Linked DNA regions of Homo sapiens. The protein of the gene in region 2 interacts with the protein of the main gene of each other region in a pairwise test. Each region holds a gene or a part of one and is shown on either strand. Other genes may lie near its edges.

Region 1 (7,044 bases), on a different chromosome or scaffold from region 2:
ACAGGACTCAGAAAAGGCTTTCTACAGCAGTACCCCCGAGCCAAAGGCCATGTGTTCCAAAACCCCCGGGAGGTGCCTGAAACCGGGGACAGTACCAAACCCTTCACTTGCTGTGTTTTTTCCTGTACATACATGCCTGTGATAATGTTTATAAATTCAGTACAGTAAGCGATTAATAAGGCTGGGCGCAGTGGCTCACACCTGTAATCCCAGCACTTTGGGAGGCCGAGGCAGGCAGATCACTTGAGGCCAGGAACTTGAGACCAGCCTGGCCAGTGTGGTGAAACCCTGCCTCTACTATAGATAGAAAAATTAGCCAGGCATGGTGGCATGCACATGTAATCCAAGTTACTCAGGAGGCTGAGTCAGGAGAATCTCTTGAACTTGGGAGGCGGAGGTTGCAGTGAGCCAAGATCGTGCCACTGCACTCCAGCCTGGACAAGAGTGAGACCCCATCTCAAAACAAGTAATAGTAATCATAATTGGACGATGACACTCTACTGCAATAAAAGTCATGTGAATGCGGTTTGCTTCCCCCTTCCCTCAATATTTTATTATACTGTCCCTCACATAACAGAAACCATGGGAAACAAAACCAGGGGGAAGGAAGAATGGCGGCACTCACAGCTGCGGTTTATTACAGTGGAAGAATACAGGTTAAAATCAGCCCGGGGAAGAGGCGTGTGGGGCAGGGCGCAGGAGCCACCAATGGAAGGACCAGGAGTCCTTCTATTTGCTTTAGGTTGGTTTGGGTTGGTTTGGTTTTTTGGGTTTTTGTTTTGTTTTTTGTTTTTTTTTTTTTTGGTTTTTTGGTTTTTGAGATGGAGTCCCACTCTGGTGTGAGCTTCCGGCTGTCCTCTCCCGTTGGGGTCATGTGGACAGCCCAGTGAGTGTTTCCCCATCGAGGATGTGTGGCTGTCTCTATGGAGTGTTGACATCCAGGGAAGCTCACCTGAGCCTCGAGATCCAGAGATTTGATTGGGGGTTGGCCACAGAGACACAGCTGGCCCCACATGGCCAGCCTTAGTCTCCAGCCCTCCAGAGGTGGAGCGGGTGCTGTGCGGGCTTGGGTGTAAGGGATATTGGCCTGTAGTTTTGTTTTCTTGTGATATCTTTGGGCAATGCTGGCTTGATAAAATGTGTTGGGAAATGTTCCCTCCTATTTTTTTGGAAGACAGTGAAAAATTGGTGTTAATTCCTCTTTACATGTTTCATAGAATTCACAGTCAAGCTCTCTGCACCTGGGCTTTTCTTTGTGGCAAATTTTAAAGTTAACCATTTATGCCCAGTGTTCCATTATTGGAACACTAAGCTTGTGAGAGTTATTTATATCCTGCTGAAGGTCATTGCCAAGGTCTCATTTTTCACAAAAAAGATTTACAACCTCCAGCATAAATGGGTTAATCTCTGTACTTGTTACAGGTTTATTTTGATTTTGTTTCTTCTTGAGTCAGCTTTGGTAGTTTGTGTCTTTCTAGGAATTTGTCAGCTTCAATTAATTTATTTGATTTGTCGGCACGTGGTTTTTCATGGTATTGTAGGTAAAGCCGGATACTCCTTCGTTTTTCCTGTAAAGTCAGTAGTGATGTCTCCTCTTTCATTCCTGGTTTTAGTAATTTGAGTCTTCTCTCTTTGTTCCTTGTTGTATAGTCTAGCTAAAGGTTCTTCATACTTCTGGAATCTTCACAAGAAAAAGGAAAAGTTTTTCAATGTTGGGTCTTTTCAGAGAACAACTTTTGGTTTCATTTATTATCTCTGTGATTTTTCTCTGTTGAGTTTGTTTCTGCTCTCATGCTTTATTATTTCCTTCCATTTGCTTTAGGTTTGTTTGGGTTTTTTTGTTTTTGTTTTTGTTTTTTTTGAGACGGAGTCCTGCTCTGTCACCCAGGCTGGAGTGCAGTGGCACAGTCTCAGCTCACTGCAACCTCTGCCTCCCAGGTTCACATGATTCTCTTGCCGCAGCCTCCTGAGTAGCTGGGATTATAGGCGCACCACCACGCCCGGCTAATTTTTTTGTACTTTTAGTAGAGATGGGGTTTTGCCATGTTAGCCAGGCTGGTCTCAAACTCCTGACCTCAGGTGATCCGCCCACCTCGGCCTCCCAAAGTGCTGGGCTTACAGGTATGAGCCACCACACCCGGCCCCACTTGCTTTAGGTTTAGTTGACTCCTGTTGTCCAGGATCTTAAGACGAAAGGTCAGGTCACTGATTTGAGATCTTTCTTCTCTTGAGACAGGATTTCGCTCTCGGAAGTGGGAAGAGGTACTGGGGCAGGTGGGAATGTGAGTTCAGGAGCGGAGGCTGTGGCTGGTGGAAGGCGGCCAGCGGAGGAAATAGAATGCTATAAACCATAGAGGAGGAGGGGGAAGGCAGACGAGGGGTCACACCTGTCATGACATGAGCAGGAAGTCAGTACGATGCCCAAAGAGGATACGTTGAAGAGTTAGGATAACGCTGTTGTCTAATGACAGTGTAAAGTGGTTGCCGGGGAGGAGGGTCAGAGAACGAAATCTGTGGCTTTCATCATCAGGCCTGGTGTTCTGCTCAGCCTCTCTTAACCATACATTGCTTTGATAACTTTTAAACATTTTTGGTTATCTGTGGTCCTGGTTGTTGTCGGTTGCTAGGTCTAATGTCATAACTGTAATTACTTGCTATAATAAAGTGAGACAGGATGATATCCATTTGCTGTCTTTGTAAACGTGTGTCAATGGAAATCGTCACAGAATAATGGACAGTTTCTGCCAATTCTCTATTCTCTCTGGACTATACACAGAGAGACTAGAACAGTGAACCCCTAAGTCCCCATCACACAAGTGAATAAGATTCTGGTCTTCGTTGCTTCTCCATGTTGTGTTGTCGGGTTTGCAAGAGCATTTTAAGTCATCACGTCAGTCACGAACACTTCCCTGTGCCTCTCTGATGAGGACATCCGTGGTAACCTCCCCACTGGCGCTGTCACACCTGACAAGGTCAACAGCACTCCCCTCGCATCATGGAATGGGCAGTCTGTGTCCAGATGGCTCTAGTTGACCAAAAAGCAGCTTCTTACAGTTGACTTCTCCCCATTGACTTTGAACAGATTGTTATTATACGAAAGTCTCCTTTTTTCCACCATTTCATAACCTCTGGTTTGTTCTGTCTTCCCAGGCCATGAGTGCGGCTGTGTGCTTTATGATCGACGGTGGGTACGCGCCTTTGTCTGATTTCAGCCTAAGCTTTTTGTACTTTGCTGCATCCTATTCTTAAGTGATAAATATGTTTTGGGGGTTTCGGTTGTTTGGGCTTTTTTTGTTGGAGACGGGGTTTCACTCTTGGAGTGCAGTGGCATGATCATAGCTCACTGTAGCCTCGACCTCCTGGGTTCAAGTGATCTTCCCACCTTGGCCTCCTAAGTCGCTGGGACTGCCAGTACACACCGCCGGACCCAGCTAATGTTTTTGTGGTTGTTTGTTTAGACAGGGTCTCACTATGTTGCCCGGGCTAGTGTCAAACTCCTGGGCTCAAGCGATCCACCCATCTTAGCCTCCCAAAGTGCTGGGATTTCGGGCGTGAGCCCCCACACCCAGCCCATTAAATGATAAATGTGTTGTCATAAGCAATATAGAGGCATAGAGAGGAGCCCTGTTCCCCATCTGGGACCCCCCTGTCTCCTTAACTAGCCAGTGCTCATATTTTTTAAGTCCTAGTTTTCCCGCTAGTCAGCAGTAGAGTGTGGGCATCTTTCTGTGTCCCACCGACTGCGAGCTGGAGACAGCAGTGGTACCTCTCTCGGGGGGGTTCTGAGGATCGAATGAGGTCATGTCTGTGAAGCACCTGGCCCATGAGTGCTACGTAATGTTTGTTAAATAAACATACGACCTTCTGAGGTCTTTCTGGGGTAGGCAACCGTTTACCACCCTACAGGGTGTGCCTCGGTCAGCTTTTCACGGTGAGATAGGTCTTCGCCCTTTTTTCATCTGAAATGTAACCGGTTTTCTATCTTCTGTTTCTCTTCTATTTGAGGAGCAGAAGGGGGCCTGAGCATTCATTGTTTGTTTTCCCAGACCAGTGAAGTTTTCGTTTGAATACTGTTGTTCAGCGTCGCACAGTAAAATGAATCTTACTGGTATTTTTTGTCATGACTTGCCAGCCTCTGTCCACCCAACGTTGGATTTTTGCCGAAGACTGGACAGCATCGTTGGGCCCCAGCTCACAGTGCTGGCCTCTGACATCTGTGAACAGTTTAACATCAACAAGAGGATGTCCGGGTTTGTACTTTGCTTTCGGTTCACTTTCAGGCATTGAACGGCTTTTGAAATACACGTAGTTTTCACTTACAAATACGGGTGGTATTAACAGTCCTGTGTTCTCGTGGACTGTAGAGGATGGTGCTACGTGCCATTCAGGCCTCTGTCTGAAAGGGTCCCGGGGACAGTCACCCTGAGTGTTTCTGCCCCACGCTGGCAGCTGGGGCTGGGCCTTCTGGTAAATACCTTCCCTCAGCTCCCCCCGAATGGAACGTCCCATTTCACCAGCCCAGATTGTTACGTTCACTTGGACAGTAGTCATCGGCGTGGTCTTGGTGTGCACAGACTGAAAGCATTTTGCCTCTCGTTGTGTGAAAATGTGTAGGGGAAACTGGCTGGGATGTGGGGCACTGGGCCTGGGTACTCAGTCTGGCAGCCTGAAGTGTCTACACTGAGTGGGAGAGGCGGGATTCACTCCTCCGGCTCTCTAGACACTGAAATGTCCTTGAATTCTTTCTCCCTGGCTTTTTTTTTTTTTTTTTGAGACAAATTCCCACTCTGTCGCCCAGGCTGGAGTGTGCAGTGGCTTGATCTTGGCTCACTGCAGCCTCCGCCTCCCAGGCTCAAGCGATTCTCATGCCTCATCCTCTTGAGTAGCTGGGATTACAGGCGTGCACCACCATGCCCGGCTCCTTTTTGTATTTTTAGTAGAGACGGGGTTTCACCATGTTGGCCAGATTGGTCTTGAACTCCTGACCTCAAGTGATCCACCTGCCTCAGCCTCCCAAAGTGCTGGGATTACAGGTGTGAGCTACCGCACCCGGCCATGCTTATCTTTTCTCAATATAAAATAGTTATTATAAAGTGAAAGTGAGGCGATGGAAAGCACTTTGCGAAGTTGAAGTCCTGCTTTTAAATGGGCTCTCTACACATTTGAGAAGTTACTAAAAGGCTGTGAATTTCTGCATACGCTCATGGTCTTAATGTTCATACGTTGTTTTTTGGGTTTTTTTTTTTTTTTTTTTTAAGACAGAGTCTCAGTTGCCCAGGCTGGAGTGTGCAATGGTCTGTTCTCAGCTCACTGCAACCTCCGCCTCCCAGGTTCAAGCGATTCTCCTGCCTCAGCCTCCTGAGTAGCTGGGTGCCATCATGCCTGGCTAATTTTTGTAGAGACTGGGTTTTACCATGTTGGTCAGACTGGTCTCGAACTCCTGACCTCGTGATCCACCCACTTCGGCCTCCCAAAGTGCTGGGATGACAGGCGTGAGCCACCGCGCCCGGCCCATATGTTATTTCTGCATGGTCTTGTATAACCGTGGGCCTCTAAGAGCGCAGAAGCGAGCAAAGGTGAAAGCACCTCTAGGTTTTGTACAACAGTGTGTGGATTACTGCTGTCAACAGCTTACATCTTTGTTGCTTTTTGTTTTTATTTTTTGAGACAGAGTTTCACTCTTTCACCCAGGCTGGAGTGCAGTGGCATGATCTCAGCTCACTGCAACCTCCAGCCCCTGAGTTCATTCAAGCAATTCTCCTGCCTCAGCCTCCCGAGTAGCTGGGACTCCAGGCGTGTGCCACCACACTCAGCTAATAATTTTTGTATTTTTAGTAGAGACAGGGTTTTGCCATGTTGGCCAGGCTGGTCTTGAACTCCTGACCTCAGGTGATCCACCCACCTCGGCCTTCCAAAGTGCTAGCATTACAGGCATGAGCCACCATGCCCAGCCAACAGCTTATATCTTGACAGTGCTGCTGAATCATTGAATCCTTTGGCCGTGAAAATACCAGGTTTTCCTTTGTGAAGGAGGCAAAAGTGAGTTAAATCGGTTTGGATCATGCAGGTTATCAACTAACAGATGGAAAGTGACAAAGTGTAGTGACCATAGAGAACGTGTCACCTGTTTTGTTTTTTTGTGGGTTTGTTTTTGGAGACAGGGTCTCCTGCTGTCGCCCAGGCTGGAGTGCAGTGGTGCAATCATGGCTCACTGCAGCCTTGACCTCCCAGGCTGTAAGTGATCCTCCTACCTCAGCCTCCCCGGGAGCTAGGACTACAGGTGTGTGCCACCACGCCTGGCTAATTTTTGTATTTTTGGTAGAGGCGGGGTTTCGCCATGTGGCCTAGGCTGATCTCGAACTCCTGACCTCAAGTGATTTGCCTGCCTCAGCCTCCCAAAGTGCTGGGATTATAGGCGTGAGCCACTGCTCCTGGCCTCACAGAGTGTTTTGAGGATAGAAGCTTACACCCGATTTAAGTTCCTTGTCTACCCAGACAACTAAATTTACAACTCTTTCCAAACAGTTTTTCTTGTCATTATACTTTCCTTAACCTTAGGGAACTATGAAAACAAATTCTGGTTTTATAAGAAGTTTCTTTACATGTTCCTGGAAACTCAATCCTCCACGTTCTTTCTTTGCCTGGACGTAGAGTATTTCATGAGTACCCCATTGGTCCGGAGGTCGGATTTCTGGTACCCCCAGCCCTCCAGAACGTGGCTGCTAACCCTGAAGCAAGCAGAGGAGGCCTCTGAGCCCAGGGGCGGGGCTGTGCTCAGGCCCCATCCAGGCCCCAGGGTGGACACTGAGGGTGCAGGGAGGGGAGGGGAGGGGCCCCAGGAGCAGTGAGGCCCAGCTTTTCCCACTAGGTCCCCGAGGAGGTCACAGACTCTGACCTGGGAGGCAGCGTCGTAGCACTGCCTAGTCAGTTTAAGAAATAAAAAGGTACATCCCATTTAAAATGTTCATCAGACTGCAGTGGAAAAGGCGACTGCGTTTTACAGTGATGTCCACTGGGGATGATATGAGGGAAAGCTTCGTTACA
Region 2 (7,044 bases):
TGCACTCCAGCCTGGGCGACAGAATGAGACTCCATCTCAAAAAAAAAAAAAATCTCCCTCCCAAAGATGTCTGTTGGCTGGATGTGGTGGCTCACACCTGTAATCCCAGCACTTTGGGAGCCCTAGGAGGGAGGATCTTCAGTTCAGGAGTTTGAGAACAGCCTGGACAACATACTGAGACCCCATCTCTACAAAAATAAAAATTAAAAAATTAGCCAGGCGTGGTGGCACGTGCCTGTAGTCTCAGGTACTCAGGAGGCTGAGGTGGAAGGATCATTTGAGCCTGAGAGGCCAGGGCTACAGTTAGCTGTGATTGCATCACTGCACTCCAGCCTGGGTGACAGAGTGAGATTCTGTCTCAAAAAAAATAGAACTCCTCCCGCATGTGGCTTAAAGCCATACTGAAATTTGTGGTAGGTCACAGGGTAACCTTCAATCCAGAGAAATAAAGCAGGGCAAGAGGGGTAAGGAGCAGGGATATTGATAAGGTAATGCTTGAGCAGCAACCTGAAGGGAGTGAGGGACTGAGTCACATAGATAACTAGCCCAGGCAATGGAGTAGGTGAAGTGGGGTGCAGGGGGAAAGTTCAGCAACGGCAAAGTTCTAAAGTTAAAGAGTGCCCAGGAGGCTTAAGGAAAGCCAGGAGGCCACTATGGCTGGGCTGAATCACAGTTAGTGGGGAAAAAGGATAAGAGATGAGGTCAAAGAAGTAATGGGGAAGGAGTTATGTTGAGTGGGGCCTTGTGCACCACTGTGAGGAAATTGGCTTTCTCACTGAGTAAGGTGGGACCATTACAGAGTTGTGAGCAGAGGAACTGCATGACCTGAGTTCTGTATCAAGAGAATCACTTTGCTGTAAGAAGCACAGATTATGCAGGGACAAGGGCAAAAGAGGGGAGACTAGATAGGAGATTACTGCAACAATCTCCTAGAGAGACACTGGTGGCTTTGACCACAGTGGTAGCTGTGGAGGTGACAAGTGGTCAGATTCTGGATATAGGCATTTCCCACTTAACATCAGTAATCTGTTTCATGAAAATTGGACATTCTGTGTGAAATCTTCAACTTAATATATTTTCCATTGATTGATTGATTGAGACAGGGTCTTGCTGTGTTGCCCAGGCTGGAGTACAGTGGCACAATCACGGCTCACTGCAGCCTTGACCTCCTGTACTCAAGCGATCCTCCCACCTCAGCCTCTTAAGTAGGTGGGACTACAGGCATGAGCTGCCCCACCCAGCTGATTTTTTATTTTGTAGAGACAGGGTCTCACTATGTCAGCCAGGCTGGCACTCAGTAATTTTCTATCAGTTCTATTTGGAATATAATTTGAAGCTTTAAATGCACATTACTTTGTTAAAAATATAGATAAGATTTTAATGATGTAAATATACATATTTTCTGTATAAACATACACTGGGCCAGGTGTGGTGGCTCACACCTGTAATCCCAGTACTTTGAGAGGCTGAGGCAGGCAGATCACTTGAGTCAAGGAGTTTGAGAGCAGCTTGGGCAACATAAGGAGACCCTGTCTCTACAAAAAATTAAAAAATTAGCCAGGCATGGTGGCACATGCCTGTGGTCCCAGCTACTTGGGAGGCTGAGGTGGGAGGATCACTTGGGCCTGGGAGGTTGAGGCTACAGTGAACCATGATCACACTATTGCACTTCGGCCTGGGTGGCAGAGTGAGACCCTGTCTCAATAGATAAATAAATAAACATAAGCTGAATCAACATAAGTTTGGTATATTAGTTAACTATTGCTGTGTAACAAATTATGCCAAAACTTAGCAGCTTAAAACAACAATATTTATTATCTCATACAGTTCTTGTGGGTCAAGAATTTGGGAGTGGCTTAGCTGGATGGCTCAAGCTCAGGGTCTCTTATTACGTTGAAGTCATCTGAAGGTTTGACTGGGCCTAGATGATCTGCTTCCGAGATGACTCACTCATGACTAGCAAGTTGGTACTGGCTGTTCACAGGAGGTCTCAGTCCCTTGCCATGAAGTTCTCTCCATAGAGCTGCTTACATGTCCTTACAACATGGCTGATGGCTTTCCCTAGAGGGAATGATCCAAGAGAACAAGGCAGAAGCCACAATGTCTTTTATGACCTAGCCTCAGAAGTCACACATTGTTTTTTCATTTTTTTTTGAGACAGGGTCTGCTCTGGCACCCAAGCTGGAGTGCAGCAGTGCGATCTCAGCTCACTGCAACCTCTGCCTCCCCCCGGGTTCAAGTGATTCTCATACCTTAGCCTCCCAAGCAGTTGGGATTACAGGCGCCCGTCATGACACCTAGGTAATTTTTGTATTTTTAGTAGAGATGGGGTTTCACCATGTTGTCCAGGCTGGTCTCAAACTCCTGACCTCAAGTGATCAGCCCATCCTGGCCTCCCAAAGTGCTGGGATTACAGGCATAAGCCACTGTCCCCAGCCACACATTGTTATTTACACAGTGTCCTATTGGTTGCATAGGTCAGCCCTGCTCAGTGTGGAAAGGGAGTATGCAAAGTCGCATAGCAGGAGTTGAGGATTACTAGAGACCATCTTGAAGGCTGACAACCAAGCTGGATATTAAAAACAAAAAGGCATTCTATGGTGAAAATGTTAACTAGAGACATTTTGCTGGATGTGCCTGTATTCTGAAATAGAGCTAACAGGATTTGCTGATGGTTTGGTATATGAGGTGTGGGGAAAAAAAGAGAGGCGTAAGGGATGACTCCAAGGTTTTTTGTTTTTTTTTTTTCCTATGAGACAGAGTCTCGCTCTGCCACCCAGCCTGGAGTACAACGACACGATTTTGGCTCACTGCAACCTCTGCCTCTCCAGTTCAAGCAATTCTCCTGTCTCAGCTTCCTGAGTAGCTGGAACTACAGGCACGTGCCACCATGCCCGGCTAATTTTTTGTATTTTTAGTAGAGACAGGGTTTCACCGTGTTAGCCAGCAAGGTCTCGATCTCCTGACCTCATGATCTGCCTGCGTCGGCCTCCCAAAGTGCTGGGATTACAGGTGTGAGAAACCGTGCCCGGCCGACTCCAAGGTTTTTCACCAAACAACTGAAAGAATGAGATTGTCTTTCTTGGCCAGGTGAGGTGGCTCACACCTGTAATCCCAGCACTTTGGGAGGCCAAGGTGGGCAGATCACAAGGTCAGGGGTTTGAGACTAGCCTGGCCAACATGGTGAAACCCTGTCTCTACTAAAAATACAAAAATTAGCCAATGTGGTGGCACACGCCTGTAGTCCCAGCTACTCGGGAGGCTGAGGCATGAGAATCGCTTGAACCTGGGAGGTGGAGCTGAGATTGCGCTGTTGCACTCCAGCCTAGGCAACAGAGCAAGACTGTCTCAAAAAAAAAAAAAAAAGAGCTTGTCTTTCTTTCGTTCTTCCCTTCCTTTCTTTCTTTCTTTCCTTCCTTTCTTCCTTTCCTTCCTTTCCCTCCTTCCCCTCCTTCCCCTTCCTTCCTTCCTCCCTTCCCTCCCTCCCTCCCTCCCTTCCTTCCCTCCCAGAGTCTCGCTGTGTCACCCAGGGTGGAGTGCGGTGGCGCGATCTCAACCTCCACCTCCCGGGTTCAAGGGATTCTCCTGCCTCAGCCTCCCGGGGTAGCTGGAATTACAGGCATGCGCCACCACACCCGGCTAATTTTTTGTATTTTTCATAGAGATGGGGTTTCACCGTGTTAGCCAGCATGGTCTCGATCGCCTGACCTCATGATCTGCCTGCCTCGGCCTCCCAAAGTGCTGGGATTACAAAGTGTGAGAAACCGTGCCCGGCTGACTCCACGGTTTTTCACCAAACAACTGAAAGGATGAGATTGTCTTTCTTGGCCAGGTGTGGTGGCTCACACCTGTAATCCCAGCACTTTGGGAGGCCAAGGCAGGCGGATCACCAGGTCAGGGGTTTGAGACCAGCCTGGCTAACATGGTGAAACCCTGTCTCTACTAAAAATACAAAAATTAGCCTGTGTGGTGGCACACGCCTGTAGTCCCAGCTACTTAGGAGGCTGAGGCACGAGAATTGCCTGAACCCAGGAGGTGGAGCTGAGATCGCACTGTTGCGGTGAGCTGAGATCGCGCCATTGCACTCCAGCCTGGGCAACAGAGCAAGACTGTCTCAAAAAAAAAAAAAAGAAATTGTCTTTTTTTCTTTCGTTCTTTCCTTCTTTCCTGGCTTCTTTCCTTTCTTCTTTTCCTTCCTTTCTTCCTTTCCTTCCTTTCCCTCCTTCCCCTTCCTTGCTTCCTTCCTTCTTTCCTTCCTTCCCTCCTTCCTTCCCTCCTTCTTTCCCTCCCTCCCTCCCTCCCTCCTTCCTTCTCTCCCTCCCTCCTTCCCTCCTTCCTTCCTTCCTTCCTCCCTTTACAGAGTCTCGCTCTGTCACCCAGGGTGGAGTGTGGTGGCACGATCTCAACCTCCGCCTCCTGGGTTCAAGCTGGAGTGCGGTGGTGCGATCTCAACTCTGCCTCCCAGGTTCAAGCGATTCTCCTGCCTCAGCCTCCCGGGGTAGCTGGGATTACAGGCATATGCCACCACACCTGGCTAATTTTTTTATTTTTAATAGAGACGGGGTTTCACTGTGTTAGCCAGGATGGTTTCGATCTCCTGACCTTGTGATCTGCCCACCTCGGCCTCCCAAAGTGCTGGGATTATAGGCGTGAGCCACTGCTCCCGGCCGTCTTTCTTTCTTTCTTTTTTTTTTTTTGAGACAGAGCTTTGCTCTTATTGCCCAGGCTGGAGTGCAATGGCGTGATCGTGGCTCACTGCAACCTCTGCCTCATGGGTTCAAGTGATTCTCCTGCCTCAGCCTCCCAAGTAGCTGGGATTACAGGCATGCACCACCACACTTGGCTAATTTTGTATTTTTAGTAGAGATGGGGTTTCACCATGTTGGCCAGGCTGGTCTTGAACTCCTGACTTCAGGTGATCCACCCACCTCGGCCTCCCAAAGTGCTGGGATTACAGGCATGAGCCACTATGCCCAGCCATGAAATTGTCTTTTACTGAGATGGTGAAAACTCTGGGAGAAGTGGTAAGTGCCTGTAGTCCCTGCTACTCGGGAGGCTGAGGCAGGAAGTTCACTTGAGCCCAGGAATTTGAGGCTGTAGTGCATGGTGGGGTGGTGATTACACCTGTGAATAGCCACTGCACTCCAGACTTGGTGACAGAGCAAGACCCCATCTCTTAAAAAAAAAAAAAAAAAAGTGCTACCACGCCCGGCTAATTTTTTGTATTTTTGGTAGAGATGGGTTTCCCGTGTTAGCCAGAGTGGTCTCGATATCCTGACCTGGTGATCCGCCCACCTCAGCCTCCCAAAGTGCTGGGATTACAGGCGTGAGCCACTGCACCCGGCCTTTTTTTCTTTTTAAAGACAGGTTCTCTACCAGCCAGGCGTGGTGGCTCAGGCCTGTAATCCCAGCACTTTGGGAGGCTGAGGCAGGCGGATCATGAGGTCAGGAGGTTGAGACCATCTTGGCTAACACGGTGAAACCTCGTCTCTACTAAAAAATACAAAAAATTAGCCGGGTGTGGTGGCAGGCGTCTGTAGTCCCAGCTACTCGTGAGGCTGAGACAAGAGAATGGCATGAACCCAGGAGGTGGAGCTTGCAGTGAGCTGAGATCGCGCCACTGCACTCCAGTCCAGGCGACAGAGCGAGACTCCATCTCAAAAAAAGAAAAAAAAAAGGAGACAGGGTCTCACTCTTATTGCCGAGGCTGGAGTGCAGTGGCACGATCTTGGCTCATTGCAAGCTCTACCTCCCGGGTTCCTGTGATCCTCCCACCTTAGCCTCCTGAGTAACTGGGACCACAGACACGTGCCACCACGCCTGGCTAATTTTTGTATTTTTGTAGAGGCAGGGTTTGCCATATTGCCCAGGCTGGTCTTGAACTCCTGGGCTCAAGTAATCTGCTTGCTTTGGCCTCCCAAAGTGCTAGGATTACAGGTGTAAGCCACCATACCCAGCTAGGAGCAACTTTTTAAGGAGATGACCTTTTTTTTTTTTGATGCAGAATCTGGCTCTGCTACCCAGGCTAGAGTGCAGTGGCACGATCTTGGCTCACTGCAACCTCCGCCTCCCACATTCAAACAATTCTCCTGCCTCAGCCTCCTGAGTAGCTGGGATTACAGGCGTGTGCCACCACACCCAGCTAATTTTCATATTTTTAGTAAAGATGGGGTTTCACCAGGTTAGCCAGGCTGGTCTCAAACTTCTGACCTCGTGATCCACCCTCCTCGGCCTCCCAAAGTGCTGGGATTACAGGTGAGAGCCACCACGCCTGGCCAGGAGATGGCCTTTTTAAGGAGTTCAGTTTGAGGCATATAACCTTGAGATAACATGAAGTAGACAGTTAAATGTGTGTGCCTCTTTAAGTCAGAAAAGATATTGGGGCTGGAGATTAAAAAAAAGTATTAATATGTAGAGGGAATTTAAAACTATGAGACCAAATGAGATCACCAAGGGATTGAGTGAAGACAGAGAAGAGGTCCAAAGACTGAATTCTGTGCCCCTTTACAGTAAGAACTGCAAAAAGGACTCAGAAGGAGTAGTCCATGAGGTCAGAAGAGAGCCAAGAAAGGAGTGGTATGCCATAAAAGAGGAGAAAATGTTTCAAGAGAGAGGAAATAACCAAATTATCTATTGTTTATGGGTGAAGTAAGATGATCCTGGAGGTCGTTGGTGACCTTGATGGGAGCAGTGTTGATGGAGTAATGGAGGTGAGATTCTGTTCAGAACTGGTTTAGAGAGAATGGGAGAAATGGAGAGGCTACGGCAGAGACAATTCCTGCTTTCCAGATATCCGTGAGCTCCATATATTTCCCAGTCCCTCTGGCCACATCACTGGTTCTGGCCAATGTGAGCTACGAAGTATTTAAGAGCTGGTACATGATCCTCCATCTCTGTCTTCCCTTGCCAGGTGATGTGGAAGGCATGTGTTCCGAATGGCTTCTATAGGGTGCTAGTGGCTTGGATTCCTGAATCACTGCTTGGAAGGGAGCTACTCTGAATTGCTACCAGTCCCACAGTAGATTTTATGTGAGCAAAAAATAG

What was found.
Region 1: the proteins of MON1A (region 2) and CCZ1 interact in binary tests that used the Homo sapiens proteins (3 or more experiments, as listed by UniProt).

What each region holds. Positions count from the first base shown.
Region 1 is NC_000007.14:5,915,717-5,922,760, forward strand, and holds part of CCZ1 (vacuolar fusion protein CCZ1 homolog), read left to right. Parts: intron 1-3,150; coding exon 3,151-3,184; intron 3,185-4,132; coding exon 4,133-4,250; intron 4,251-7,044. UniProt on the Homo sapiens protein: Acts in concert with MON1A, as a guanine exchange factor (GEF) for RAB7, promotes the exchange of GDP to GTP, converting it from an inactive GDP-bound form into an active GTP-bound form.
Region 2 is NC_000003.12:49,919,791-49,926,834, reverse strand, and holds part of MON1A (vacuolar fusion protein MON1 homolog A), read left to right. Parts: intron 1-7,044. UniProt on the Homo sapiens protein: Plays an important role in membrane trafficking through the secretory apparatus. Not involved in endocytic trafficking to lysosomes.